Homo sapiens: one gene and its partners. The protein of the gene in region 1 interacts with the protein of each later gene in a pairwise test. Each region holds a gene or a part of one and is shown on either strand. Other genes may lie near its edges.

What was found.
Region 2: the proteins of UBE2U (region 1) and TRIM38 interact in a two-hybrid assay, tested with the Homo sapiens proteins (one large-scale study listed by BioGRID and IntAct).
Region 3: the proteins of UBE2U (region 1) and ZSWIM2 interact in a two-hybrid assay, tested with the Homo sapiens proteins (one large-scale study listed by BioGRID and IntAct).
Region 4: the proteins of UBE2U (region 1) and RNF17 interact in a two-hybrid assay, tested with the Homo sapiens proteins (one large-scale study listed by BioGRID and IntAct).
Region 5: the proteins of UBE2U (region 1) and RNF113B interact in a two-hybrid assay, tested with the Homo sapiens proteins (one large-scale study listed by BioGRID).
Region 6: the proteins of UBE2U (region 1) and DTX1 interact in a two-hybrid assay, tested with the Homo sapiens proteins (one large-scale study listed by BioGRID and IntAct).

Annotation. Positions count from the first base shown.
Region 1 is NC_000001.11:64,261,943-64,266,436, reverse strand, and holds part of UBE2U (ubiquitin-conjugating enzyme E2 U), read right to left. Parts: intron 1-4,494. UniProt on the Homo sapiens protein: Catalyzes the covalent attachment of ubiquitin to other proteins.
Region 2 is NC_000006.12:25,965,520-25,970,890, reverse strand, and holds part of TRIM38 (E3 ubiquitin-protein ligase TRIM38), read right to left. Parts: intron 4,557-5,371; 5' UTR 4,369-4,556; coding exon 3,958-4,368; intron 1,567-3,957; coding exon 1,471-1,566; intron 1-1,470. UniProt on the Homo sapiens protein: E3 ubiquitin-protein and E3 SUMO-protein ligase that acts as a regulator of innate immunity. Acts as a negative regulator of type I interferon IFN-beta production by catalyzing 'Lys-48'-linked polyubiquitination of AZI2/NAP1, leading to its degradation.
Region 3 is NC_000002.12:186,834,724-186,840,094, reverse strand, and holds part of ZSWIM2 (E3 ubiquitin-protein ligase ZSWIM2), read left to right. Parts: intron 1-925; coding exon 926-1,136; intron 1,137-2,540; coding exon 2,541-2,789; intron 2,790-4,949; exon of another isoform or gene 4,950-5,065; intron 5,066-5,371. UniProt on the Homo sapiens protein: E3 ubiquitin-protein ligase involved in the regulation of Fas-, DR3- and DR4-mediated apoptosis. Functions in conjunction with the UBE2D1, UBE2D3 and UBE2E1 E2 ubiquitin-conjugating enzymes.
Region 4 is NC_000013.11:24,861,084-24,866,454, reverse strand, and holds part of RNF17 (RING finger protein 17), read right to left. Parts: intron 5,188-5,371; coding exon 5,068-5,187; intron 3,743-5,067; coding exon 3,662-3,742; intron 1,583-3,661; coding exon 1,457-1,582; intron 312-1,456; coding exon 252-311; intron 1-251. UniProt on the Homo sapiens protein: Seems to be involved in regulation of transcriptional activity of MYC. In vitro, inhibits DNA-binding activity of Mad-MAX heterodimers. Can recruit Mad transcriptional repressors (MXD1, MXD3, MXD4 and MXI1) to the cytoplasm. May be involved in spermiogenesis.
Region 5 is NC_000013.11:98,174,348-98,179,408, forward strand, and holds RNF113B (RING finger protein 113B), read right to left. Parts: upstream 2,923-5,061; 5' UTR 2,890-2,922; coding exon 1,935-2,889; intron 1,830-1,934; coding exon 1,816-1,829; 3' UTR 1,438-1,815; downstream 1-1,437.
Region 6 is NC_000012.12:113,086,928-113,092,298, reverse strand, and holds part of DTX1 (E3 ubiquitin-protein ligase DTX1), read right to left. Parts: intron 1-5,371. UniProt on the Homo sapiens protein: Functions as a ubiquitin ligase protein in vivo, mediating ubiquitination and promoting degradation of MEKK1, suggesting that it may regulate the Notch pathway via some ubiquitin ligase activity.

The DNA of each region.
Region 1 (4,494 bases):
GAAACTGAGGCTGAGCAACCTATAGTAACTTGATCAAAGATATCCAGCTAATAACAAGACTCGTCCCAGATCTGTCTATCCAAAAACACAATGTTATAGTATACAGAAAGTTTCGTGGAGCTGGAAGGGAGGCTGAAGCCAGATCAGGAAAGCCTCATATGTCATGCAAAGGACTTTCATCTTTATCTTATAGGCCTTGTAAACAGGGAAATAAACTGATTATACTTTTCAAAAGGAGAATATAGATATAATGTCTATATTTCTAGATGTATATTTCTACACAGCATGGGGACCTTGCTTTCTGGGGATGAACTCTAGCTGGTACTATTTATGTTCTGTTAACTCTAAAATCTCACTGCATTCTCTTCCCTTTTTCCTAGTTGTCACCGGATTCACTGCTGATTATGGGTTCCAGGACAAATTTTGTTTGCCTCATATGTTTATTTCCCTCACACATGAAATAAACCCTGTAATATTTGCTGTCTTCTAATGTTATAGACATGGGCTACAAGTGACTTGTTTTCCTTCTGTCTTTGGTTTATAGAAAGATACACAGACAGACCGGGCATGGTGGCTTACACCTGTAATCCCAGCATTTTGGGAAGCCAAGGCAGGTGGATCCCTTGAGGTCACGGGTTCGAGACCAGCCTGCCCAACATGGTGAAACCCTGTCTCTACTAAAATACAAAAATTAGCCGGGTGTGGTGGCAGGAGCCTGTAATCTCAGCTGCTCTGGAGGCTGAGGCAGGAGACTCACTTGAACCCGGAAGGCAGAGGTTGCAGTGAGCTGAGATTGACCCACTGCACTCCAGCCTGGGTGACAGAGTGAGACTCCCTCTCAAAACAAAACAAAGAGAGAAAGATACACAGAGAGATGTGAGTTTACACAGTCACCATTATCCTATGGTTATCCTGAGGCCCACAGTGATTTTTAATTTTTTGTACTTTCGGTACTAATATTTAGTTGTAATTAATTTAAAACTAAATTCTGTCTGTGCCTTGAGAAAAGCATCTATTTATTTTCCATGAACATATTATTGATGGACTAACTCCAGTTCTTTCTAACCATGCTTGGGCCTTTCTGACTCCACATGCTTTTGATTACAAGAAATATAAAGCCAAGTCAACCCAGTTTAAACAATAGGAGAGTGTTTTATCTCACATAAGAGAAAAGCCAGAGTGGAGAGCAAGACTGAATGTTTTCAGTGACTCCACAATGTCACGAAGGACACAGCTCTTCTTACTGCTTGCTTTGCTAACTGAGGTGTTGTCTTCATCTTCAGGTGCATAGCAAGAGAGCTACGGCCATTCTAGTAACCACACCGGACACAGCAACATCCAGGGGAAAAAGCGATCTTCTCACCAAGATCTCATTTTTAAGAGTGGACGGCAAAACCATCCCCTGAAGTGCCCAGCATATTTCCCCTCAAGCAGGATCCTGTCACATGCCATTTCTTTTATTTTAATTTAATTTAATTTTTTTTTTGAGGCAGGGTTTCACTCCCATTGTCCAGGCTGGAGTGCGGTGGCGTGCTTTCAGCTCACTGCAACCTCTGCCTCCTGGGATCAAGTGATTCTCTCACCTCAGCCTCCCAAGTAACTGGGACTATAGGCATTCACCACCATGCCCAGCTAATTTTTTTTTTAGTAGGGATGGGGTTTTACCATGTTGGCCAGGCTGGTCTCAAACTCCTGACCTCAGGTGATCCACCCACCTTGGCCTCCCAAAGTGTTGGGATTACAGGCGTGAGCCACTGCGCCCCGCCCCATTTCTAAACTAGTTACTGGGAAGGGAAATGGGATCACCATGATTGGCTGACGTGAGTTGCTGGCGTGGAATGAAAGTTGGGAATCAACCACCTTGACTATTTGCCTTCTTAGTTCCTGCCCTGTTAAAAACTCCCAGGAAGCATAAAAAGAAACCTGGCTAGATCAGCAGACTATAATGCAAAATAAATATAGAAATGTTTCTTTAGAACATAAAAAACAATATTATTTTGAATTTCTCTCCTCCAGGAAATCTTAAGCATTATAAATCTCTCTGAGACACCTTGGATTTGGTGGTTGGAATCAGTAATAAAGGTGGGGATTTTGTTACTATGTTAACAAAATAAGTTATGGAAGCACAAATTCTAACTGCCTTATATTTTCCATGCCTTTCTTGGGTTGGATCATGGAAACTCTGCCTCTGATAATTTATTTTTAATCTGAAAATAGTTTAGCTAATAAAGATATTAAAATCTGTGCTGACTGATGGGCTTTGATGATTGCCAAATGGTTTATTTCTATTCAGTCCTGTTTTCAGCCTGGGTTCAGTTAGGAAAACAGAGCCACTACAAGTAATACAAGAGTGAGAGTCTAACACAGGAATGTGGGATTATCCAGCTGTGGGAGGACCCAGGGGAGTGAAGATCTGGAAGCTACAGCTGGAGAATTGAAAAAAGAGTCGTGACCCACTTTAGTCTGATGCACTGACACGAGTGGGAAACCAGGAGCTCATAGAGTACAAGAGGCTGCACACATTTAGCCACCCAAAGTGGGACAAAAACAATGAGTTCATGGGGATATTTGTGCAGCCACCATGTCTGTGAAGTGAGGCTGTGGAGAGATGTGTGAAAATGCCATATCTGAGGAACCCGCCATGCCTGATATGAACAACTTCCCAAGCATAATGTCCTCAACTTCCCTCCCACCTGCCAAATCTCTGGTGAGTTTCTCCCACTGGCAAACTATGACATGCCATCCTTCTCTGCAAAAGAGGGACACACAATTCTTTCCTTTTCTGAGTCATACTTCCCTTTGATATCCTATATAAGTTCATTCTCGCTACATAATAACTCTCTTGCTACATAATAAACAACCACAAAATCTTAGTGACATACAGCAATAAGTATTTGTTTTGGTCACATGTCAGCAGGTCAATAGGTGGTTGGCTTCTTTGGCTGGGGAATGGCTGGGAAACGTGGGTGGGCAAGCTCAGATCTATGCCTTGAATCTTTCTCTGTGATCAGAGGGCCAGTCCAGGCACGCTCTGGTGATGATGGCAGAAGAGAAAAAGAGCAAGCCAAATCATGCAAACCCTTTCCAAACCCTGGGGGCACACTGCACCCACTAATATTCCACTGATGAAAACAGGTCACAGGGAAAAGCTCAAAGTCAAGGCACAAGGAAACATGTTTTGTTCATGTAGGTGGAGCAGGAATTAATATTTCTGAACAATAATCAAATTTACCACAACCTCTCAGGTATAGTTTCTTCCAGAGTAGACAGAAAGGAGTCTATTCCATGATTAAAGAGGACAAGGCTCAGCACTGGAGCGCTAACCAGTTTCTGGACATTAAACTTAAAATGTTGTCTCTTCCAACTTGCCTTTTCCCCACTTATCATGGGTTTTCACCTTTTTTTCCCCCAAATCACAAGGCAGATAAAAACATGACAATTTTACTTCATCCTACTATTTACTTACTCATTGATAGCTACTGTATGCCAACCACTGTGCTGTGGAAGACTGGGAGGTGAGCAGTCCCTTCCCTCAAGAATCTCACTCTTTTTCAAAGGAGACAGGCAGTAAAGAGAGTAATAACACAGCATGTGTGCCGGACAGACTCCAAGATGGCCCCTAGAATCCCTGCATCCTGGTATTTACACCTGAGTGTAAACTCCTCCTTTCTGAGTGTGGATAGGACCCATGACTTCTAACCAATAAAATAGGATGCAAGTGATAAGGTCTCACTCACATGATTATGTTACATCACATATGACTCCATCTTGCTATCAGACTTGCTCTAAAGACTCTTGCTGGATAAAGTAGGAGGCCAGGCTGGGAGAGCCCATATGGCAAGGAACTGTGTGCAGCCCTCAGCAGCTGAGGGAGGCCTCCCACATATACCCAGCCAGAAGCCAGGGCCCTCATTCCTAAAGACAGAAGAAAATGGATTCTGTCGACAACCTCACTGGGCTGGGAAGCAGATTCCTCCCCCATTCAAACCACTAGGATGAGAATGCAGCCCAGCCAAAGCCTTGATTGCAGCTTTCTGAGACCTTAAGCAGAGGATTCAGCTAAGCTGTGCCTGTACTCCAGGCCCACAGAAACAGTAAAATAATAAATGTGTGTTGTTTTAAACCATTCAATGTGTGCTAATTTGTGACACAGCAATAGAAAACAAATAGAGCATGATACGGCTATGGTAGAAGTGCTATGATAACCCACAAAGAAAGTTTCCTAAAAAAGGTAATACCCGAACTGAATCTCAAAGGATGCATAGGCATTAGAAAGTAAAGAAGGGGAGAGAAGAGCATTTAGAGTAGGGGTATGAGAAAACACAGTGTACTGCTCAAATTTTTTTATGAAATGAGGTAGGGAACAAACAATCATGACCCACTAGCTTAGTGTAGCATTTAGGTTGTGAAGGGGAGAGGGAGGGAATGTCACTGCAAAGACAGAGACAAGTATTAGAGCATTAAGGATTTTCTGTGTCAAAGAGTCTAAATTTT
Region 2 (5,371 bases), on another chromosome or scaffold:
AAAGTTGCAATTTCCATTAGTGCTGTCTAAATTAATGCAGTGGGAGTGTGTATTCAGGGCAATTTGAATCTATGTTCTTGGATTGCAGTCTTCAAACTTGGCCCAAATAAACTCTCTACTTATCTTAAAAAAATAAAAATTAAAAAATAAAAATAAATTCATACAGTGTTTTGATGACTATGATATAGAAGAAGGGTCTTTGACTTAGGATGAGGTGGAATTTTTGTGTAGGAGACAGGTGCAGCTTTAACTCTTGTATAGACGGGTTTTCATATATGTTAGTTACAATCAAGGTCTTCCCCATTGCCCAAGATCCTAGAAATGGGGGAAGTAAGAGTGTACTCAGGAGCTCAAGAGCAACATCCACAAACAAAGATCAGGGTAGAGGTTAGAGAGGACTCCTGAAAGAGAGAAAATTGGTAATCAGCTTGTGGGATTTTACTGCAAGCTAGTGAATTATATAAATATAAAGATTGGTGCAAAAGTAATTGTGGTTTTTGCCTTTACTTTAATGGCAAAGACCGCAATTACTTTTGCACAAACCTAAATATTTCCATAAAAGAATGTGGCTCTGATAATGTGGAGGTTAGTCAGCCACGGAAATAATCTGAAAGTTTGTAGTTGCAAGTGTGTAGGTTGTTGCATTACTTGTGATGTACTTATAAATCAAGTATAGGCCGGGTGCAGTGGCTCACGCCTGTAATCCCAGCACTTTGGGAGGCTGAGGTGGGTGAATCACGAGGTCAGGAGATCAAGACCATCCTGGCCAACATGGTGAAACCCCGTCTCTACTAAAATACAAAAAATTAGCCAGGCATGGTAGCACATGCCTGTAATCCCAGCTACTCAAGAGGCTGAGGCAGGGGAATTGCTTGAACCCGGGAGGTGGACATTGCAGTGAGCTGAGATCGCACCACTACACTCCAGCAAGACTCCATCTCAAAAAATAGTAATAATTTAAAAATAAATAAATAAATAAAGTATATTTCTTTCATCAGCTTCATGAGCTAGAGTAGTATGAATTTCAATCTGGAGTGATCCTGTTTTCTAAGTGTTCACAAAGCTTGGTTTCTGTACCTGTAAAGTTGAGAGCCAGATGCTCCACTGTGGTAAAAGTGCCAGGGTAATGAGTTGAGGCCTGCAAACCAGGTTTATTTTGACGTATTTAAAGTTTGAGACCCACTCGATGCTTTTTCTAGGTAAATAGTCATACTAATTCTGCTTCTTCTGACTGAAGTATCAGGAATCCCAGCCAACTACAGTTTAAAGATGGAAAGATTGGTGCTAAATACTCATGGATGTAAACCTGGAACCAGGGGCATAAGTACAAATAATGGTTTCTTCCTTGGGTTTCATTTTTTCAATCTGGTTTAGTGAGAATAAATCCTCATTGTGCTTTTCCTCAATCATCCCCTATGCCTAAGCTCTAGAATGGAAAATAGCTTGAGATCAATGAAGTCAGATTCTTACTTTCCATTTAGTTATTCGCATTGCTGTGGACAGCTTCTGCTCCGTACATCTGTCTTCAAGTTGCTTCAGTTTTGTCACAGCTTTCTGGAGCTTTTCCTGAAGGAAAAATTTGATAAGTGAAGCCTATTCAATTTGACTCTTCATTAGGGACCTAGGGGGAATCCCAATCTTCTAAGATATATTTGAATAATAGTGAATATTTATAGAGTCCTCATTGTTTTTTGCTAGAGAGCATGCTAAAGGCTATATGTGCAGGAACATACTGATCCCCTTGGCAACCCTGAATAGTTGGTAGGATTTTAAACTTCATTTCTGTGCTGTAGAAAATGAGACTAAGAAAGGGGTAAAATAACTTGCCCAAAGGGCTATGACTGCCAGGTGGTGGAGCAACAATTGCAATCTCATCTGCTGACCCAGAGCCTGAGCTATGTCCACCACTAGAGTCCTGCCAGGAAAAAGTTGGATATAGAACAAGGTAATCATCATCTAAAAGATTTTGTAAAACAACATGCTGAACCAAGCAAAACCAATACCAGTGTTTGGCACACATGAAATTTTGTGTCTTATGAGTCAGGAAAAATCAGGATGCCAGCTGGTTATTAGAAACAGTTCATGGAAGAGGGGAATTCTGGTATCTTTTGAACAATGGTATCATGAATCCAATTTAAAATGATTTAGTATTCATGTCAAGCTTTTAGCTTATTCTTCAAAACAGTTTCTCATATTTCTATTGAAAGTGATTTGAAGCTGACCCAAATTGCTAATTGTAGTCAATGCTGAAAGAATTGTCTCCTGTCCTCTGTAAACCCAACAAGTATACTCATTCATTCTCGAGTGTTCTCAGGAAAAGGTTCTATGTAACTGTTTTAGCAAAAGATGACATTGTCCTTACTATATGCCAAGTGCTATTCTATGCATTCTATATTTTAATGTCCTCAAAGCTTATAACCACCTCCTGTGTATGTGTTTTAGGGAGGGAGGACACTGCTATTATCCCCATTTACAGATGGAGAAACCAAGGTGTGAAGACATTAAGTAACGTGCCCAAAATTGCCCATCTAGTAAGTGACAAAACTCAATTTCAACATAAGCTGGTTCCTTTTCTTACTACTTGGTGGAAAAGTAATTCAAATGGGAATATGATCATCGCAGTTATTAGCTGCTCCATGGAGTTTAAGGAAGAGCTGCCATGAGCTGAGTGGTGGTCATGATTGACATGTCCTTAGAAGGACTTAGAGCCTTCATACAAGACCACCTCTGCCTCATGGAGGACAGAATAAGGAGCCTGACACTGGAGACAACATTTTCCTCAAATTTAGGCAGGACAGAGAAGGAAAAAGGACATCAGGACTATGCCCATTCCTCCATGCTGCCAACAGCAAAGTCCCACCTTCCTTAATATGCTTTCTGGCAAGAAATCTGGATGGTACACAAAACCTCTCCCTCTGCTTCACCTTCCACAACCAAGCATTTCCAAATCTTTGACTCTTCTTCCTGAATCGTGCTTAAAATCTGCCCTCTCCTCCCTTTCTTATACGGATAGTTTGAATTTTACTCCTTGATATTCCTTTTATCATAGACATGCCACAGTAGCTGGGCACAGTGGTTCATGCCTCTAATCCCAGCATTTTGGGAGGCTGAGATGGGAGGGAGACCAGGGGTTTGAGGCCAGTATAAGCAAGAAAGGCAGACCATGTCTCTACAAAAAATAAAAAAATTATCCAGGTATGGTGGGGCATCCCTGTAGTCCTAGCTACTTGGGAGGCTGAGGTGGGAGGATTGCTTGAGCCCCAGAAGGTTGAGGCTGCAGTGAGCCGAGATTGCACCATTGTACTCCAACCTGGGATACAGAGCAAGACCCTACCTCAGGAAAAAAAAAAAAAAAAAAAAAAAAAAGTAGAGGTACCAGAGTGATATTTTCAATGTCACTGACCCTTCATTCCCCAAATGAAAATCCCCCAATAGGTGTTCAATTTTTACGTGTCCTTCAGGAGTTACTTCTAAGATGAACCACTCTCTACCCTAAATGTCCCTCCCCACCACCAAAACCAGGGACCTCCAGGCAGACATTTTTGATGGTTTGTTTTCTTTACTAGACTGTAGATACCTAAAAGGTGATGGGTCTTTCTTCCCTGTTTTCAGGCCCTACTGCATGGCTTTACATATTGTGGTTTTTCAAATGATATTCATGGTGTGAAACAAGAAAAAATGCGGGTGTTTGGTTTGAGAACAACCTGTTCTAAAGCAAAAAGAAATTCATCATAACACAAATGGATAGAGATAAGAGTCCAACCATCCCATTGAAGGTCAGGATGGACAGTCTAGATAATTGAGCAAGAAATCATCATAAACTATTTTTCAGAAGAATGACATGATGAAAGCTGTATTTCCAAGTCATAATGTTAGGTTTCAAGTTAAATCATCTCAGCTCCTGGGGAGCAGGATAAGACTTGGTACTTACCAAAGCTCCCGGGCCCACACACTCACCTTGTAGCCCTGGCATACGTCTTCAACAAGAGCTGTGGTGTGCCCTTTGTGCTGTGGTGCCCGCTCACAGCGCCAGCAGATGAGCTGCCCCTCGTCTTCGCAGAACAGGTGGAACTGCTCTCCGTGTTCCTCACATGACATTTCTTGATCCGTCTCTTTGAGGGCTTCAATGAGGCTTCCCAGCTGCTTGTTGGGTCGGAGGCTATCCATATGAAATGGAGCCCGACACTGGGGACAGCAGAATGTCTCCTGCCTCAGTTGCTTTTGGCTTGGGTTTTTAAAGAAGTCTGTTATACACAAGTGGCAGTAGCTGTGTCCACAGTTGATGCTTACTGGGTTCGTCATCAGGCTCAGGCAGATGGAGCAGGTGGCTTCCTCCATCATCTTCTTGGTGCTGGTGGTTGAGGCCATAGCTTTTATTGAAAAGCTCCAATATTGGCTCTAGAGATGGAGATGAAGCAGCCAGAATTTTCCACCGTGATGAAAATACACCTCACCTGCACCTCTATGTGATGAGCTGGCTGCAACTGACTTCCATAGGTCTTGAAGGTTTTCCTTCCAACCCCTATTATCTCATTTTGTATTGAAGAAAAGAGGACCTAAAAGGAAGAAGTTGAGGCTGAGGTTGTTTGGGCCACGTTTGAGAACTGCAACCCAAGTGCAGAGTTTCAAGTTGCCCTCATTAGCAAGCAGTTACAAGTGGTTGTTTAGAGGAAAAAAAGCAGTTTTAAAGCAGTTTTAAAGTTGTTTGCCAAGAATTTACATTAAAATAGCATAAGCTTTTGACTGGCTATACATTGTTCTTTGTATTACAAATCTCGGGAATATGTAGGTAATAGATGAGGCAGCCAGTCAGGAACAAAATGCTTTTAAACATGGGGTCTTAACTGAAGACCTATACTCCTGCCTCACTTGTCCTGATAAATTTTGCATACCTCACATAGCTCAGACTGCTCTAAATTATTTCATTATTTTTCTTTTCTCAGTCTTCTAACTTTTTTTTTTTTTTTTAATGAGACGGAGTCTCACTCTGTCACCCAGGCTGGAGTGCAGTGACGCTATCTCGGCTCACTGCACCTCCGCCTCCCGGGTTCAAGCGATTCTCCTGCCTCAGCCTCCCGAGTAGTAGCTGGGTCTACAGGTGTGCACCACTACGCCCAGCTAATTTTTGTATTTTTAGTAGAGATGGGGTTTCACCATGTTGGTTGGCTCGATCTCTTGACCTTGTGATCCACCCGCCTCAGCCTCCCAAAGTGCCAGGATTACAGGCATGAGCCACCGTGCCCAGCCTCTTTTTCTTTTCTTATAAGACAAGTTCTCGCTCTCTTGCCCAGGCTGTAGTGGAGGGCAGTGGCATGACCACAGCTCACTGCAGCCTCGACCTCCTGGGTTTAAGCAATCCTCCTGCCTCACC
Region 3 (5,371 bases), on another chromosome or scaffold:
GAAATGTAACTGTGATGTTTTCAGTATTTTAGTGTTTAGTTGGGGGGGGTCTTTCCAGAAAAACAGAGCATTTCATTATCTTGGAAATAATTTTTAATTCATATATATTAAAAAGATACATAAAATCAATAGAAGGCAGGGGACCGATAACAACTAGCATTTAAATTATGACATGTTCAGGAGTAGGAGATGGAAGGGGGAAGCAGCAAAGGGATGGGCCAAGGAATGAAGAATCTAGGATTCCCTGATCAATACTATAGGCACTTAGAACATCATTCCTTTAAGGATTGCAGGATAGAGAAAATACAGAATTCAAAAAATGCACATCCCAATGGTGCAAGCAATATAGTAACTAATAGATTGTCCTGAGAAACACTGACCAAATCTGTTGAGGATAAGACTAATGAGACACGCTTTTGTAGGTACACAAAACAGAAACAGAAAATAGGCACAATTAATTAAGTCTTGCTCTTCCATTATTATTTAATTCACTTATTCATCTAACAAATAATTACAGTAGCTACTCGGATATCAGTTTCCTCCTCATGTATTCATGTCCCATTTATTTTAATATTCTTATATGTTGACAAAATATTTGTTTATGGACTAGTGAACAGGTCGAAGTATAAGACATGATTGTAACACCAATCCAAGGATGAACACTATCATATTCAAGTGCACTGTTTGCATTGACTCTTTTTCAGTTACAAGAAAAAATAATAATTTTTATATTTTTTTAAATGACTCTTTTCTGACATTTTGGCTCTGAAAAAAATGTAAAGAAGGGGTCAATGTCAGTGTGATAATTCAATCAAAACTGTCTCTCTGATATTTGAAAGAAAATTCTAACTTTCAGCATAAGTTGTTACCTCTCTGTAGCTCCAATTTTATGACTGGATTTTAATACTTTGGGATTTCTCACTAGCTGCTTTACAACTGGGTCTTGGAGAAAGAGAGATAAGTGACTTGCTTCGGGGGATACATCGAGTTCAAACTCCCCAACCAGGAACAAATGACGAAAATGAACATGTTGAAGAAGATGGGTACATTAAACAGAAGGAAATTGATTCAGAGGATATCTGCTCTATTTGTCAAGAGCTACTTTTAGAGAAAAAGCTTCCTGTCACCTTTTGCAGGTGATGTACTTTTTCTTTAGATTCTTAAAACTAATTAAAAATTCTAAAACATATTTCTGATTTATTACCTTAGGAGACATGATAGGGAAAAAATAGACAACTTTACCTACTGCTAATTTATACTTAATTAACATTCTTTTATTTCCTAACACACACACATATATATAATATATATAATATAAATATATTATAATATATTACAATATAAATATAATATCTATAATATATAAATATATATCATAGAAATATATATATTATATATAACATATATGTTAGGAAGCAACATATATATGTGTGTGTATATATATGTTTTGAGCTAAATATATGCTCTTACTCTAAATCTTTCTGAGCTACACTACAAGGGTAAAAACTGAAACATAATTCCACAATTATTCCTCTTCCCACCTTAAGTAACAAGGGTAGAGTAATTTCTGTGTTTTTATTTTATACACATGAATAAATGTGATGGTTTATTATAGTTATAAAGACTTTTCTGAAAGTAAAGATTATTTTACTTTGAAATTACAAAAATTATTTTTAGTTTTTCAAAATTCTATCTTTAAACCTAAATAATTCAATTTTCACATATGTACAAATCTTTTTTTTTTTTTACTCATTAATGCCAACAATAATATTTCTTTCATCCCTTTCATTCTGTCTACATAACCAATTCTTGTTTTGTTAGACCTCAGATCAGCTGTCTACTTTTATTTTATTTTATTTTTAATTTTTTTATTATACTTTAAATCTTTATTGAGAGTCTAATGTTCATACTTTTCTTCACAGCACTATAAAGTTGGACTTGAAAAATTTGGACAGTCATTTTCCATTGCAATTTTTTTCTCCTGATCATTCTTTTTTCTTCTGATAATTTAACAAAACTTTTGTCCACACTGTAGTTGTTCATGTGTCTGCTTCTATTGCATATTGTAAAATTATTAACTACTTTCCAAAATGGTATTTCTCTCAGCAGATATTTCTTTGGTACTACCATGTATTGTGTGACTTCTGGAAAAGTATGGTGGCACCCCTGCTCTCAGTGAAGCATTTTATTAAAATAATAATAATTATTATTCTCCTTTGTGTTAAGCCTATATTCATTCTCACTTTACAAATGAAAATATTTTAATGATGCAAAATCTTTCACCATTTCATTGGAATGAAGGAAAATTTAAGTTTGGAATTCTGATGTATTAAAGATGATAGATTACTAGAATGAGTGAGTGTGTGTGTGTAATCAAGCTATAGCTGAAAATCAGTTCAGAATCTATTTTTTTGTGGAATAAAGATGGTAGCACAGGAAATTTTATTTATATAAATATATATATAATATATATATATATATACAATGGATATGTAAAACTGCTCTATACAAATGGTAAACTTCAATTTTATCTCTCATAGGTTTGGCTGTGGCAATAGTATTCATATAAAATGCATGAAGATCTTAGCTAATTATCAGAGTACATCAAACACTTCCATGTTGAAATGTCCTCTGTGCAGGAAAGAGTTTGCACCATTAAAACTGATTTTGGAGGAATTCAAAAACTCTAGCAAACTAGTAGCTGCAGCAGAAAAAGAGAGACTGGACAAACACCTTGGGATTCCCTGTAATAACTGCAAACAGTTTCCAATTGAGGGGAAGTGTTATAAGTAAGTGTTATCCGTAAATTATAAGCATGTGTTCTTTTTTATTTTTTTACATCAGGAAACTTTGAGCATTAGAGTACCCGTTCTGTAGCCTCCCTCTTCCTGCATATACTGTTTGACTTGTGTGACGACTGCTTATTTAGGACTCACAGACTGACTTCTATCTCAGTCCAGTATCTCAGGAACTCCAATCGTTTTATTTTCTTCTCCTGTTCAAGGGTATTGGTTTGAGCTCTGGTCCAGATTGGGTCTGAAGTAGCACCCCATCCTAGAAGCTCTGGACACAGGATAGGTGGCTTTAGCCTACATAGGTTTCCAAGCTTAGAGCCTTGCTGGATCTCTCACCCTCTGTAACTTTCTTTGAACTACCTTTGAAGTCATTGCCAAAAATTCCGAAGATTGGGCCAGAGAGACATTGACTGGATTGACTGAATATTTAATCCAGTCCCCCCTACTCCAAATGGCAATGAGTACAGGTTTTGTTTTATTTCATATCTTATACTTCAACAACTACAAAAACATAGTAATTATTAGAGCAAACAATTTTCACTGTGAGTAACCCCCAAACTTTCCCACAATTCTCACGATAAAACATAAATTAATTGCTATGCCTAGGAAATTTGTATTTTCTTAATTAAAATTTTAAGTTAACAGTACATTAAGAAGAAAACATTATTTCAATCTTTGTCACATTTTTTTGAAATGTATCAGTTTATTTTTCAGCCTTCTTGAATTACATTATGATGAGCCCAATCTAATTTATATATATATTAAAACTCTGTCATAAAACCGTAAAACATTATCACATCCAACAGCAAATTATACCTTTCTCCTTTGAATTTAGTTTTGTTTTCTGTATGTGTAACACAAAAGAAAGTTGATTATTAACAAAAGTATTTACTGGAAAATGGCTGGCCTGAGAAGGCTCCTAGGGAGGATTCTAACTTGGGGTGGAAGTACAGAATTTTTATAAATTTTTAATAAGGGATATTCAGCTAGGTTCAGGAATGTTGGTCAAAGAGGATTCCAGGAAAAGGAAGGACTTGATCTTTGGTATTAGCAGCCATCGTATGGGCATTTAAATTTTCTCAAGAGGGGTGGATAGGACCAGTCATGGAGGGGATAAGGTCACATGTAAAAGTGGGGGCTGGGACATGTGGGGGAACAAGGACATGTGAGGGCCACAGTGTAAAATTCTCAGTGCTTACAATCAATGTTCCCCAAATGGTTTACAGGCAGCTTTAGTACAAATATTGCTTAGGTATGTTGTTGATGACAGTGCACTCCTGTCACTCAGAGCTTTCTGACTGCTCTTTCTGTCCTGGGGCATTATTCTTCCTACTAAGTAAACACATGGCCCACTATCCTGCCCCCTGCCCACTAGTGACCCTACACTCCCCTTTGAGAATCTTTTCTTGTCTCATAACTTCTCCTCTACGGATCTGGCTAACAATTACTCATCTCTGTCTCCATTCTCTTTTACAAATTAAAGAATGCATTTTCAATGTGTGTGACTCCATCCATCTTCCATTCCCTTGAGTACTGACATTTCAGTCATCAGTCTGAAAAACTATTTCCATTTCCTTTAGGAACACATTGAGTAGGAGACAAGATTAACTAGAAAGTTTCTTCATTCCTTCTTCATCAGAATTTCAGAATTTAACTACTTCATCTTTTAAGAGGTTAATTCCGAAATTACTAGATATATGTTAAAATACAGAGATGCTTAACTTTTTTTAGCCCAGCATACTTTGATGTATTGAATAAATGGCACCATTTGTCCAACCCATTGGTGTTAATTATTAAAATCTTCCCTGTATGTACAAAGAGTAATAATGAATAAATTAGCAGTTGCTTCTTTTAAGATGTCTGAGGGACATATTTTCTTAAATTTCTCATGGCAATAATCTTCTAAATATTTGATAACTTGAATAATAAGTTTACTTGACTACTGCTCAGAATATTTTCAGTTTGGTAAATTATGTTGCAAGTAATTTAAAATCCTCTACTTGTGACAAAATTTTTATAAACAATATAACCTTGAGATTGGGCTTTTATGGAAAGTGGGTTTTTTTGACTTGTCAATAGTTTTTATTGAGATCTTTTATATGTTTACCTTTTTCCATTCTGTGGGGAAAAAATAATATAATTTTTATTTTCAAGAAGTATGCTGCCAACTCTAACTCTGGCATTCATGAAACAACTGGAAAGCAGCACTGGATAATCAAATGACAGAATATCTAATAGACTGTACATCCTGTAAGAATGTAGAGAAAGAGGTAAATGAAAGCTAAGGTAGTCTGAGAAGGCATCATGGAAGGGGCATGTGGTAGACAAAATAATGGACTTCCTAAAACGTCCACATCCTTACGCCCAGAACTTGTATGTCATAGAGGAATTAAGGTTGCAGATGAAATTAAGGTTTCTAATCACTGACCTTGAAATAAAGAGGTTATCCTGGATTGCTTGGATAAGTCTTGTATAATCATACAGGTTCTTAAAAGTAGAAGAGGGAGGCAAGAAAGTCAGAGGGAAATGTGACTGTGGAAGAAAGGCAGAGAGATGCTACGTTGTTTGTTTTGAAA
Region 4 (5,371 bases), on another chromosome or scaffold:
GGAAGGAAGAATGCAGAATGACTGCTGCTGGTACAGGGCTTCTTTTGGGGGTGATGAAATGTTCTGGAAATAGTGGTGATGGTTACAAAACAGTGAACGATATTAAACAACACTGAACTGTATATTCAATAGGTAAATTCTATGATATATAAATAATAAAACTGTTATAAAAGAGAGCTTTCTGTCCTGTATCAGATCCTTTTTATTAATGAAGTGTCCAAAGTTTCCAAAATACTTGGATTGTTACTTACCTCAAACCTTATTTCCCATTGTTCCTCTTCATACTTTTTATCATGATCTGATCTTGGTTTCTGAAATAATATGGTATTGAGTAAAATCACCTTTAGCTATATTGTTTTAAGGTACTTTCCATATTTCATCCCCACAAAAACTGGGTGCATTTCCTTGTTGGTATTCATTTATTTATTTCAGATCAATTACAGGAAAATCTAATGTTCTGAATAATCTCACCATAAGTTTTCAACAATAAGAAACCTCAAATACATGTTAACACATGTCAAAGCTAATTCATTTATTATAAGAGTGGGAGTTCTTACCTTTCCCTTTAAAATGTTCACAGTGAATAGTACAACTAGAACAGAAAGACTAAGTAATCTTTATAAAACGTGTTTAATAACAGACGTAACTTCTTTTACACACACACACACCCCCACTCACCCACAACAACCACACCTCTGCTTTAAAGAAAAAGCTGGCAGTGAGGATTACAGGAACAAAGTTATAGCACGATTTCTATTTGAGAGAAGAAAGTAGTTTTCTTTATCCATAGAACAATGTTTGGTTGTGTACTACCACCAAAATGAATATTAAAGAGTCTAACAAGTAGACTGCAACTCTAGAAATAAAAATATCTTGTGATATAAAATATAATGATGCATAATCTACTCCTATAAAAGATTTATAGCAGCTTGAAATGTGAAACCATATCTTGTAACAGGCTATATTTTTTAAAGTACTAAACCACAGAAGCACCAGGCAAGGAATGAGCCACTTATGGAAGCTAAGCTCAAAATGTGACTCTGGGTTTCCTGTGAGAAGGCAAATGAGAGAAATTTTGTAATACACGGCTTTTGTGTCAAGTAAAAGGAAAAAATATTTTATCTGGAGCAAGAGCCCTCTGCTGGTACTGAATTCTATAAAGATTTTAGAATGTGCATCTCTAATTCAAACAACACTGAATAGCATGGGCATCGCACTAGGTTTGAAGGTACAGAAACATTAATTGAATCTTAATGTAATTAAAGTCTTTTACAGGACATTTATAATGCATGACACAGCCTATTCATCTTTCTCAGCAAAAATGTGTAAGTCCTCTAGACTCTCTTAATAGATCAGATATGTAGAATCATATTTAAGACACAGTGTAAGACAAAATGTGACATTTTAACTAGACTTTTCTACACTTTAGATTTTTATAGAAAAATAGTGCACTTACTTCTTTCAACATCTCCTCAGTATGTTCAGAAGTACAGTATTTATAGTATGCCATAAAATAAGAAAGTGACATTCCATCAAAATAGAGGTGAATAGACAATTTCTCCCATGGATTTTTAGGTAACTCCTATTTAAAGTTCAATAAAGATAATCATAAAAATAAACTCCACTTGATGACATTTTTATAGTCAGCAAATATCAAATTTAGCTTCTGACAATCATAGTATTAACTAGACAGTTTGGCTAGTGACTCATTTCATAGAATTTTCTTCCTGGTATTTTGACGCGCTATAAGGGAGTAATTCTACTACTTTGGTTTATGTAATATACACTTTCAAGTTCATAGAGTTTTCTAGTTATTTACCACAAAATAACTAGTTATATATAATTCCAATTCCCAAATACATCACCTTTAGATGATACTAATAAATTACACTACGTACAAAGAGAAAGAAAAGGTTACGTTCAGAGGTGAAGAAATAAAGTTTCATTTAAAAATCCAAAATTGGTGGGACTCGAAACAGTCTAAAAGCAGGAATCATGGTAACTTTAAAACTCTGAATAAAGTTCACTTACAGTTATTGGGTGCTGAATGTGTCCCTAACTGATAAGCTGACCTACAGCAATTCTCTTCATTTCCACTGATCCCACCTTTGTCCAAACTCACTGCTCCTCACTGTTTTACTGCTCCTCACTGAATTACTGTTGCTGCCTCCCAGCAGATCTTGTCCTATCTCTTCTTACCATTCCCTCTTCTGCCAATGCAGTCCCCTCCCTCCTAGCCCTGCTCCTGCCTCAGCACTCATCTCCCTGCACCCGTGTGGTCTGTCCTCTAACCATTTTAAGGTGTTGACTCAAATGTTACCTTTGCAGCGACGTCTTCCCAGATGCATGTTTAAAGTGGAACCTCCTCCCTGGCCATGCCATTCCTATCAGCCTCTCTCTTATCTAATCTAATACTCCTCATAGTTTATTTTCTCTTTCCCACCACTGAAATGGAAGCTCTAGAAAGGCAGGGATTTCCTACTGCTCAGCCCCCAGCTGTGTGTCCAGGCCTAGAGCAGAGGCTAGCACCTAAGAGGCCCTCTGTCAGCATCTCCCTTTGCGTACAAGGGAGAGGAGTGAGTCTGGGCAAGGCCTGCTGTCGGCTGGGTTGTGTGGCATGCACATTCGTGGTCTCTGAGACACCTGGCAGCCTTTGCTATACCACAAGCTATTCTTCTGTGTCAATTAAGCGAAGAAGCAGTGAAAGCTGTCTAGACAAACTAAAAATTTCAATCTCTACCATATTTCAGTGACTTGCCATGGAGACTAAGTAACTAGGGAGGGACTCTTAGTACTAACAAAAGCCACTTTCTTATGTAAGTGAGTGTGTGCCTCCTTTAGGTTTTTATCACTCTATCATCATCCTTTAATACAGAAATACTTTCCTTACCATATATCTTCCCATTCAGGCCCTGCAAACATAGCAGCTGCAGGTTGATCTTATTACCTCACTGCTCAGAAACCTCCACTGAGGCTCTCCCTACCAACCCCACCAACCGGCCCCTACCTCTCCTGAATGCTATTCACTACCACTACTCTTCACCAAACCTCCACTGTTCAAGTCAAACAGTTACACCATTTCCCTAAAATGTCTCTCTGTACCTTTGTGCATTTCATTTCCCCAGTCAGGAGAACATTACAAGGGCTACCTCAATTCTCACCATCTCTAAATTCCTATTACATTTACTCTTTTTACCAGTCACTTAGCTCTTGGCATGTTACTTTGTAGTGCAAATGTTTTAGGTTTTTGCCTTGTTTCACTAACCAGATAAGGGCTTTGAGGACACAGATCATGATAGACTCCCAGAATTACCTGGACCCGAGACAGTGCTGAGTGTTCAGCACCATCTTGGAAACTGCTACATATAATTATAAACATGTCCAACAATTTAATACTGCTCCCTGTAACAAAACAAGCTGTTAATAAAGAATCTTTCAAATTAGTGACTTTAATGGTTATGAAAGTTCTCAGGAACTTGTTCAAAAGCAGGCTTATTTAAAGCAGGCGCAGGAACCAAACTGGTAGTTTCTTTTATGCTAACAAGCAATTCACATAAGAAGGTATATACCATTGCTTATCATCAAAAATATCCCTCAAATTATGTTAATTATAATATTTTATGGCAAGTAATTTATAACAACTATATATACTTTAAATTACCATAATGTGAATGTCCACCTGTCTCTTTGAAAGCAGTTGTTGAAGAACTTCTATTGCATCTGGTTGCCAGACATTCCCAACCTATTTGAGATTAATAAACTCAGATTCTTTTATGCTTTCATAAAATCAGAGCAGGAAGCAAATTAAGATACACAAAAGTAGCCATAAACAAATAATATCAGATAGTAGTACAAAATACACAAGCAGTTCTCAGAGAATATCATAGGTACATGATAAAAATAATCTTTAAAAATGAATAATTTGAGTACTCATTTTATGCTTTAAAAATATAAACCTGTTCAGCCAGAGGTGAGAAAACACACACACACACACACCCTACATTTAAAAACAAAACATTACATTTAAGACTTTTTAAAAAAGACCAATATGCCAATGCAGTGCTTGTACAAGGCCTACAATATGTATTCATTAAGGAATAGCGGTTGTTGCGTCTTTATGCGTTGAGAGGTTCACATGGTGAGAAGTGAGGCTTCCTGCCAAAGCAATGTGAGTCAGCCATCTGAAGTGGACCCTCTGTCCCCAGTTGATCCTTCAGGTGACTACACTTATGGTGGACATCTTGACGGCAGTATCACAAGGGACCATGATATGGTTTGGCTGTGTCCCCACCCAAATCTTATCTTGAATTGTAATCCCCATGTGTCGAGAGAGGAACCTGGTGGGAGGTGACTGGATCATGGGGCAGTTTCCCCCATGCTGATTGTGAGTTCTCACAAGAACTGATGGTTTTGAAAGTGGCCGTTTCCCCTTCAATCTCTTTTTCTCCTGCAACCTTGTGAAGAAGGTATGTGCTTCTCTTTCGCCGTCCACCACAACTGTAAGTTTCCTAATGCCTCTTCAACCATGGAGAACTGTGAGTCAATTAACCCTCTTTTCTTCATAAATTACCCAGTCTTAGGTAGTATCTTTATAGCAGTGTGAAAATGGACTAATACAGACCCCTTGTCAAAACAAACCAGCTAAGCCACTCCTAATCCCTGAACCATAGAAACTGCATGAGATAATGAAAGTTTATTGTTGTTTTAGACCACTAAGTCTCAGCTTAATTTGTTATGCAGCAATACAGAATAAGACACTCTTTTATCTGATCTCCAGCTTCAAGTTTGTTGTAATTTCATTTGATAAAGAAATAAAACTTTTGCAATCTTATACCTTCCTACTTATGAACATGTCTCTTCATTTATTCAGATGTTTTACAGCCTTGAGTATAATTTTGTAACTGTCTTCATAAAGGCTGTTTAGCTGTCTTAGTAACTTATTTGTTGGTGTTTTATTACTTTTTTGTTGCAACTGAAATTTCATTTTACATTCTAAATATTTCTAAAAAATTATTAATAAAAACTAATATTTAAAATTAATCATTCCACAAATTATTATGTACTCACAGGTGTGGTATTATGGAGCTGACAAGGAATACAAAACTGGGGTATATCAGGATACAGCAAAATAGGGTAAAGATGGCACTGCGGAATCTTTTCAGTGAATCCATGATCTAAATATTGTACCTGAAACACGACAAATACAATTTATAGTTAAAATTTATTATTAAAAGCTAGGGGACAAAAGGAATTTCCTGTTATTAGAAAAAAAGACAGGCCGGGCTTGATGGCTCATGCCTATAATCCCAGCACTCTGGGAGGCAGAGGTGGGTGGATTGTTTGAGCCCAGGAGTTTGAGACCAGCCTTGGG
Region 5 (5,061 bases), on another chromosome or scaffold:
TGTCTAGGAAGGGACATACATGAAGCATTGTAAAGAAACTCGAGTGAGCCTTGGGAGAAAAATCCTGGAGCCAGAGCTTAGAGTTTCTGCTTCGGAGTGCCTGAAAGTTTCATATTTCTTCTTTTGTGCAGATTCCAAATGTTTTTGGAAGGCTTGAAAGTGAATAAAATAGCCCTTTGACAGAACTGACAAAAACGGACGGACTTAGGGGTAGGGCCCAGTAAGTCATTGTACACAAGCTTTGTGTTGTTAGCTTTGGCAAGGACAATTCTTAGAGAAAGCTCTATGTGAAATGCCAGAATAAATGGCTCACTTTTATGGGGCACTTGAACTGTCTGCCTTGTCGACTATCAAGCTGCCATTTTCCCTGCTTGAATTACAATAATCGATATGTTGATAGCACATACTGTATGTCAGGCACTGTTCTAAATATGTTAATTTTTGCTTCAAAACAACCCTGTGAGATACTACTATGTATGAGGAAACTGAGGCACAGAGAGGTAAAGTAACATACCCAAGGTCACGCAGCTGTAACTGGTAGAACCATGACTTGAATCCTATCTCGCTCCTGGGTCTGTGCCCTCAACCACGGCTCTGCTTTTGTCTGCAACCTGGCCATGGTGGTGGGTGGGTCGATGGGTGTGGTTCAAGGTCAAAATCACGTGGAAAGTTTTGCCGAAGTTCGCTCTGCCGCAGTTGCTTGCATAGCCGACTGCTAGGTAGCTTGGTTTGACTGACTTTTCACTAACTGACTTTTTATTGAGCTACCTGTTGGCCATTAAAAAACAGGAAGTATGTGAGACATGGTTTCAGTCTTCAAGGAATTCACAGCCAAAGTTGATATATGAGATAGGCTCTTATGAAAATTTACATAATCTGTGTCAGTTCCTTGTAAGGAACTCATCAGCTGTGAGGAACTCAGCGTGGATCTGTTGGTGTTTGTCTTGGGAGAGGAATACATTGCCATTTTAAGGGAGAGGATGTTAACATCAGCCAAACAAAATCAAATCCAAACTTCAGCGTGGATATTCTTCTGTCAACTCCTCCCCTCCTTGGTTCTTAACTGATATCCTTTATTTGCTGTTTTGGTAACTCTTGAACCCCATCCTCTCCACTCCCTCCCGGTCTTGGTTCCATCATTTCTTCCTTTTCTGATATCTCTTTTTAGCTTTTTTGAAAAAAAAAATTAATTATAGTACAAAACATAAAATGTACCCTTAACCATTTTTAAGTGTTCACTCATATTAGGTATATATATATTGATGTGTAACAGAGCTTTATAACTTTTTCATTTAGCAAAACTCAAGCTCTGTACCCATTAAACAACAGCTCCCCACTCCCGCTCTTCCTAACCCCTGACAACCACCATTCGACTTTTTATGTAATTTTGACAACTCTAGATACCTTATATTAGTGAAAAATCATACAGCGTATTGGTCATTTTGTGACTAGTTTATTTCACTTAGCAGTGTCGTCTTCAAGGTTCATTCTAGTTGTAGCATGTGATCCTTAAAAGGATCAGTTTAAATCTTTAAAAGGATTTCCTTCCCGTTAAGGCTTAATAGCATTCCATTGTGTGTGTGTATCGCATTTTGTTTGTCCATTCATCCATCCATGGACACTTGGGTTGTTTACACCTCTTGGCTTTTGCAAATAATTCTGCAGTGAACATGGGAGTGCACATACCTCTTTGAGATCCGGATTTCAATTCTTTTGGTTACATACTCAGGCATGGGATTGCAGGAAGACTGTCATCTCTCTCATCTTACTCAACAGGCTGCTTCTCCCCAGTGTACATACAGACTTGAGTCTTTCTTATCTCTTTTTTCCTAAAAGAACAAAAAAATTTATTTAAATGTGAGAATTATGGGAAACCTAAGCCATGGGAATTGGACACTCATGGGGGTCTTCTGTGAAATGGGACTTGCCCCCACCTTCTGCAGCCTGAAGCTTTTGCAGTTTCGCCATCAGTTCTTTGGCGGGGTTAAAGATGCCGCCGGTTGGCTGGTCACAGATGTAGCAGCGCGGGGTGGCCCGGAAGTGCTCCAGCGCGCAGCTCTCGCAGAAATAATGCCTGCACTTGGTGACGACTGGGTTTTGGAAGGCCTGGCGACATATGAAACACCTGAATGGTATTTCCTCTTCCTCGCTTCCCACTTCATGGTTTTCGTCCTCGCAGATACAGTAGCGACCCTCTTCAAGCTCCCGTTCAATCTCCCACCCGAGCTTGTAATCGGAACGGTCGTGGAGGAATTTGCAGCTGTCCCCGAAGCCACAGAAGCCAGTCTCCTTGTAGTCCTTGCAGATGTCAGGCTGGTAATCCCAGCGCACAGTGGCGCGCAGATGCCCTGGCGCACGTATGGGGCCCTTCCTCGCCATCCCCGAGGAGGAGTTGCCCATGGACGTGTCCTTGGGCTTCAGGTACCTCAGGTAGCTGTGGATTCCCCGGTAGATGTGGTCGTGCTCCCGACCCCGCAGTGCCTCCTGGACCCGCTGGCTGCACTTGAGGATGGTCGGCGTATGGTGCTCCTTCTCGGTGTCCTGCTCGAAGTCAGCGGTGGCCCCCATGTCCTCTGGCCCCACAGGCTTCGCCGAGCGGGTGGACCTGTACACCACGTCGAGGCTCTCAGGCGCCGCCTCCTCGCCCCTCCTGTCGCCGTGAGCCGCCTTCTGCCAGCTGTGGAGGCCCCGGGGCCTCGGTGCCACCCGCGGGGGCTGAGCCACTGTGTCGCCCTCGTCCCCGCTGCTGCTGCTCTCTCCGTGCTCGGGGTCGCAGGCCGGGCGCTTTCTGAGGCCTGCAGCCCCTTTCCGTCCAGGCTTTTTGAAGAGGAAGGTGCATACCTGGTCTGCTTGGTCGGCCGTCCTTCCTGGAGAAGGTGGCGCTGCCATGTTTGAGTCTCAGGCTCCCAACGGCCGTGGCGTGCGTCACCCTTGCGTCGCCCTTGCGTCGCTGCACGTGGGGCGTGGGCCCTCCCAGTTCTAAAAAGCAAAAGCAAGTGAAAGAAAAGCTTCTGCTAGGCCAGGCGCGGTGACTCACTCTTGTAATCCCGGGACACTGGGAGGCCGAGGTGGGAGAATCACCCGAGGTCAGCAGTTTAAGACCAGCCTGGCCAACATAGCGAAACTCCATCCTTACTAAAAATACAAAAATTACCTGGGTGTGGTGGCGTGCGCCTGAAGTCCCAGCTACTAGGGAGGCTGAGGCAGAAGAATCGCTTGAACCCAGGAGGCAGAGGTTGTAGTGAGCCGAGATCACGCCACTGTACTCTAGCCTGGGTGACAGAGCGAGACCCTGTCTCAAATTAAAAAAAAAAAAACCAAAAAAAAAGGCTTCTCCCGCCCTTCCCTCCCTTGACCTGCCTCCTGGCCCTCAGATGGATTCCTTGAGAGAGTCATCTTCACTTGCTCCTCAGCTCCCTCAGTGCACACTCATTTTTCAACAGATTCCTAAAAGGCCACGGGTGGAATCATTCCAGGCCATAGCGAACCGGTGGTGCTCATCCTAAAACACAGGCGCTTGAAATGCGTATTTAAAAGCAACACACGCGCAGTGCAGAAAACAAAAACAGATACAAGCAAAAAGTAAGACGCCTATAATCCCTCCCCTCAAAGATAACCACTGTCAACACTTTTGTGTCTATTCTTTTAATATAGCCTTTATTAAAAGACTGTCATATCACACTGCACCTGTGGGTGTGTAGCTGGCTTTCATTTTGAAATAAAAGTAACACATGTAAACATTTAAAAAAATATTATCAAGCACTTATTGTAATGGAAATTGGCTGTCCCCTGCCTGGCCCCTCCACACGCCAATTCCTGGTACCTAAGATAATCATTTTTAATTTTTTTTTTTTTTTTTTTTTTTTGAGAAAGAGTCTCGCTCTGTCGCCCAGGCTGGAGTGCAGTTACATGATCCCGGCTCACTGCAACCTCTGCCTCCCGGGTTCAAGCAATTCTCCTGCCTCAGCCTCCTGAGTAGCTGGGATTACAGGTGTGTGCCACCACACCCAGCTAACTTCTGTGTTTTTAGTAGCGACAGGGTTTCACCATGTTGGCCAGGCTGGTGTGGAACTCCTGACCTCAGGTGATCCACCCACCTTGGCCTCCTAAAATGTTGGTATTACAGGCGTGAGCCACTGCACCCCGCCTTCAAATATTTTTAACCCTTTTTTTTCTTGAGTTTATCTTCAAGTTGTGAAATAATTCATTTATATAATGTAAATGGATTCTAGTTCTTATTTAGCCAGTGCATGTCATAAAGTGTTACATGCAATTTCTTTTTCTAATTTAGGTTCTATCTCTTTACTTACTAGAATGGAAGATGAGATTCAGCTCACTTGTAGTGCCCCCAAAACACTGGCTGCTGTGGGATGAGGGAGAAGTTGTGTGGGTCTCTCTTCCTAGACACCAAGGCATCCTCAGCTGTTGGAAATGTGATGAATAAGCTTACAGTGTAAAGAACAATTCATCATTTGTCAGTTTTCTCTTAGGATAGTAATTCTAGATTTTTCTTCAACTGTTATCATCCCATCTTTCATGTTGGAAGCTTTTCTAAAATACTTGGTTATCTCCAGCTGTTTATACTTCAGAGTGAGGTGCCTAAAAGCTGGCTGGAATCCATCGGTATTGTTGGGCTTGTACACTGGACTGTCCTTTGTGTGATTCAGTTGGAACCCATCTTTTTTCTTGGAGACCCCCAGATGTTGGTGTCCATATTAGTCCGTTTTCACGCTGCTGATAAAGACACACCTGAGACTGGGTAATTTACAAAAGAAAAAGGCTTAATGGACTTACATTTCCATGTGGCTAGGGAGGTCTCACAATCCATGGTAGAAGGTGAAAGGCATGTCTCGCATGGCAGCAGACGAGAACAGAATGAGAACCAAGTGAAAGGGGTTTGCCCTTATAAAACCATCAGATCTCATGGGATTTATTCACTACCACAAGAACAGTATGGGGGAAACTGCCCCCATGATTCAGTTATCTCTGGTAACTGGGTCTCTCCCACAACACAAGAGAATTTTGGGAGCTACCATTCAAGATTTGGGTGGGGACATAGCC
Region 6 (5,371 bases), on another chromosome or scaffold:
TATGTGTCAAGGGCCAAGCACAGTTCCTGGTACCTAACAGCTACTAAAAGCACAGCCATCGGTATCATCACTGTCAGCTGTGCAATCCTGGCCGAGTAATTTCACCTCTTTGCTTCCCAGGCACTAAGTCCTGGTGTAACTTCTCTCCATCTTAGAGAGGAAACCACAAAACTGCTGCAGTGACAACCTTGAACAAGTCACTTAACTTCTTGATCCTCAGTTACCTTATCTGTAAAACAGGCATATTAACACCTCACTTATAGTCGTTGGGAGGACTGAAGGAGAGCTTGCGGTGATGTGTACAGTGTGTCTGCCTGAGTCCTCCTGACTTCAGCACCTGTTTATGCAGGGGAACTGGTGTCTTGCTGTTGATGGGCATGGAACCCAGGCTGGATACGTTCTGATGAAGAGGGGTGTTCTGAAATCCAGGGGTCAGCCTGAAGGCCTTGGGGGATGTGCCAGGAGAGGGGGCAGGAAGGGCTGGGAGCAGTGACAGCTGGAGAAGGAGCTGCAGCAGCCCCCTTGGCTCTGGCCGTGCCTGTTCAGGTCACAGCCTGTCTAATGCTGTCTGGTCACCTGTCCTTGGCAGGCACAGTTGGCACCAGAAAGCATCTTCAAGCAAATGGTGCCCTTGGCAGGCTTGGGTACTGCTGCAGTGGGTGCAGACACACAGACATACACACCCAGGGCACACACCATCCACACAGATCCACAGATCCAAATATACACACATGCATGGAGAAGACCACACAGACTTATCATACTCCCCGGGACACATTACACACACATGTTTAAGTACACAGACACACAAACACACACAACCCAGGGAGTACATCACAGATACATGCACACACAGACACACAGATACCAGGGAGCCTCCCTCCCCATCCGTCTACTTGGGGAACATACCGCACACACTAGGGAATGCACACCATGAACATATACATGGATACACACAGGCACACTTCAGGGCACGCCCCCCACAAACATACATGGATTAAGATACACACACACTCACATATTCCAGGGAATGCCTCCCCACACCTACATACAGAGACTTGTGCACACACGGGGACACACACATACACACAGAAGCACACACAGCTCTCCCCTGGGAGGATACTCCATTGGACAAGAGTCGGTGGCTCATGTAGACCAGTACCGCACCTGCTACTGCCGCCCCTCTCCCCAGCTGCACAGAGCTGGGTAAGGTGGGCAGCAAACCCAGAGGAGCATGCGCTCAGCCCTACAAGCCCCCGGCGCGCTGCAGCCTGCAGAACGGCCTGCCGTCCACACGCGGACACACGATTCCGCACCGCCTGTGGGGAAGTACTCGTGCGTACTGATTCACATCATGCATGGGGGCGCAGGAGGACACGCTGACTCACTGCACACGAGGACACATGCGCACATGCTCTGACCCACACCTCCTGACACTGACACACAGACACTCAGCCTGGGAGGCCCACACCTGCACACATGCAGAGGCACAATCACACATGCACACAGGTGCAGCGCACACACACCCACTTGGTGGCTGCTCGGCTATACAGGATAGTATCACGTGGCCAGGACTCCCATCCCAGACCCCTCTGAGGGCTGTGGAGAGGTCTGGAGCAGACATCTGGATTGAGCCCCTTGAGGAGGCGCCGGTGTGATGGAAGTCAATGAACACAGCTCCCGAGGGAGGCAGGATGGGATGGCGGGTACCCTGGGTCCCCCAGGACCTGGTCAGTGGAGGTGGGAAGAAAGCACTGTGCCTCAGTTTCCCCACCTGTAATGGGGATAGAGTCCTGTGAAAGTTAAATGTGCTAAAACATGTAAAGCTCATCATTTGGCGCAGGGATGAGAGTGGAGGTGTCTTGATTTTCTTGTCGGGCACCCTGCGGGGGGGCCCCAGGAAGAGGGGCACTGAGTATTCATTTGACCCTTCTCAGGGTCTGTCATAATCCTCCAGGGCCTTCCTCAGGGGGGCAGCTGTCACCACTCTAACTTCCTCCCTCTCTATACTTTTATAGGAATGCATAGAGGCATTTCCCTCAAGCTTTTCCTCTTTCCTGCCCATTCTTCAAGCACCTCTAGTGCAGACAACCTGGTTAAGTCTAGGTCTGCCTCACCCCTCTTTCTTCCTTTCTGCCTCACAAGAAGAAAGTATCTCTTTTTTTCTCCAGGACTACCTATAAATTGGGTGGAAAGAAAAATATTGAGCATGCATACCACCACTGGTTGGTCTCCTGCCTGTGGCAGACATCACTAATCCATCACAGCACTCTCTCAAGCTTAGCAGAGTCCTCAGTACAGCTCTCCAAGCAGCCTCTATCAATCAGTATAGCCAGTTTGCTACCCCAGGTCTATATAATGCCCAGTCTGGCCCAGTGGGTAACCCTGCTCTTGCTGAGTGTTTGGTCTAGGAGTTAGACAGAGGGTACTCCAGGAAGGGAAGGATTTAGATCTCAGCTGCCCTAAAATTTCTGGAGCCCCTTAAATACCACATAGCCCTAGATTACAAAAGTCAGTCTTGCTCCTGGGAAGAGCACTGTGAGTGGGGTGTCACTGTGGGACTGTTATTTATTTACCCATCAGTGAGCCTGGGGGACAGTCCCGAGGTAGTCTCCAGCTTCTCTCTAACTGCAGGCCTCCTGCGAGAACCCAGGGTAGCAGAGTTCCCACGAACCCTGAGCGTGGGAGCCACCCGGCCCCCTTTTGATGTGGGACACGCTGTTTCCTCCGAGTCAGTGAGAACATCCTCCTGCCTGGACAAGCGACCGCTGCCTGCGGGCCTCCCGGAAGGGGAGCCAGCCTTCACCCCTAGCTCTGCCTTCTTGGGGGCCCAGGCTGGCACAGGACCTGAGGAGTCCCTCAGGCCCTCCCCGAAATCTACTCTGACCAGAAGGCAGGCATGGGCCCCACTGCCATGCAAGCCTCTCTGCCTTTCCCAGTCCCAAATCAGATCCCATCTGTCCTCTGCTCTCACTCCTCCTGCAGCTCCCACTTTGCTCACAGTTAACACCTGGCCTCCTGATCTGGCCCCCATCTACCCTCTGAACCTCATTTCCTATGTGTTCACCCCTCTCCCACTCCACTCCAGCCACCCTGGTCTCTCTGCTCTTTCTCAAGCATGCCAGGCACACTCCCACCCCAGGGCCTTTGCACTTGCTGACCCTTTCCCAAGGTGCTCTTCCCAGATATCCTCATGGCACACTCCCTCACTTAGCACAGGTCTCTGCTCAAATGTCAGCTTATCTGAGACACCTTCCCGACCACTTTATTTAGTTATTTATTTATAGACAAGATCTTGCTCTGTTGTCCTGGCTAGAGTGCAGTGGCTTAACCATTGCTTACTGCAGTCTTGAACTCCTGGGCTCAAGCGATCTTCCCACCTCAGCCTCTTGAGTAGCTGGGACTACTGGCACACACCACCACACCCAGCTTAAACAACAACAACAACAACAACAACAAAACTTTTGAGGAGACAGGGCCTCGCTGTGTTGCCCAGGCTGGTCTGGACCTGACCTCCTGGGCTCAAGTAGTCCTCCCTCCTCGACCTCCCAAAGTGCTGGGTTTACAGGCATAAGCCACTGTGCCTGGCCGCAACCACTTTATTTTTAAAAAGCCCATCTTTGTCCTTACCTTACTGAATTCTTTTTTCATAGCACTAATCACGACCTGACATTATAGTCTTTTTTTAAAATTATACTTTAAGTTCTAGGGTACATGTGCACAACGTGCAGGTTTGTTAAATATGTATACATGTGCCATGCTGGTGTGCTGCGCCCATTAACTCATCATTTACATTAGATATATCTCCTAATGTTATCCCTCTTTAAGCATGACCAGGCCCTGTATGATCTGGTCCACGCCGCCTCTTCTGCCAGACAAAGTTAGAGCAGGAATGTCAAATATATGAGTGCATACCACTACTGTCCTCCTAGCACCCACAGCAGGCATTACTAATCAATTTCGGCATGCCTTACCGCTAAGCCAAGATGCAACTTCAGAATCCTCCTCAACACAGTGCTCCAGGAAGTCACTGCCCTGGAGCAGAGATGGCACATGAGATGAACTCTATTTGTCATTTATTTTGCAGATGATGGGACTGAAGCCCAGAGAAGGGAAATGACTTCACTAAGGTCACCCAGCTGGTTGGTGGTGCAGCTGGCACTGGGTCCTGGAGTTTCCGAGTCAGGGGCCAGGGCTGACCCTGCCAGGTTGGTCTGTGGAGCCATCTGGAGTTGAGCCAGCCTAGAGAGCCCTCTGTGCTCTACAGGTGGGCTGAAGTCTTTGACCTGGATCCTGGAGCTGGCTCAGGCCTGGGCAGGGTAGATCAGGGCTGTCTAACTGGATCCATTGGCCTGCTTTGGCCACCTCTCTCTGTCCCCTAGAGGGGTCCAGGATCCCGAAACACTGACAACTGACCCTCCCTTTAGGGCAGCCAAGTCCCCTCCCTCCTCCAAAGTCTGGTCTCCTTATCTCTCCCCTCCCACCCCCAGCAGGCCTAGACTTGTTACTTTCTCTGATGCTAGTTTCCAGGTCCCCCATTGGCCTTGGCCCCCTTCAGGATACCTCACACTTACCCAGCAGACCCCAAAGAGCCCCAGGAGCCTCAGGACTCAGTCATTTGGGGCCAAGTGGGTGAGGAGGGGGCAGAAGTGAGGATGTCACTTTATGGGGAGAAGGAAGTTGAACAGTGCTTTAGGGACCCCCCACCCTCTCCCTTTCTCCTTTCTAGGGGTGTGAGCCTGTCACCTTTCCCCACTTTCAGGGCTGTCTCTGCCTCATAGCTGCCTTCTCCCCCTCCTCCCCCCACAGTCCTGGGGAACACAGCCTGGGGCCAAGTCCCTGCCGCCACCCCCACTGCAGAGACTTGAAGGACATCGCTGCAAGCCCGGGGGACCAGGTGCCCATGGACTCCTCCTCAGCTGCTGTCTGGGGTCCTCACTTCCCCTTTCCTTACCCCAGCACCTCCGTCTGCCTAGACAAACCTCTGAGCTTCTCTGGGCTTCAGTGTCCCCTCTGTGAAATGGGACCCCTTACTTCTGTCTTCTAGACCCCTTACTTCCATGTTCTAGAGATTAAAGGATGTAAAAGTCCCCTCGGGAGACATTTTGAGGTGTGAGTGGTATTGGAGGCTCAGATTTATCTAGAGGTATGGGGGCTGCGGGGGTCACTCTTCAACCCTCCCGGTCCTCCAGCCTGCCCAGCTCTCTGCGGGGGAAGGAACGGGAGGAGATGGTTGGGGGCAGGGAGGACCGGTCAGGTAGGGGAGGGGAGGGCAGGACCGGCTGTTCCCACGGCCCGGGGCAGCCACGTGCAGACAGGAGTGTGTGTGGTTTGGTCTCCCAGGGAGCAGGGCAGGAAGTGCTTCAGGTGG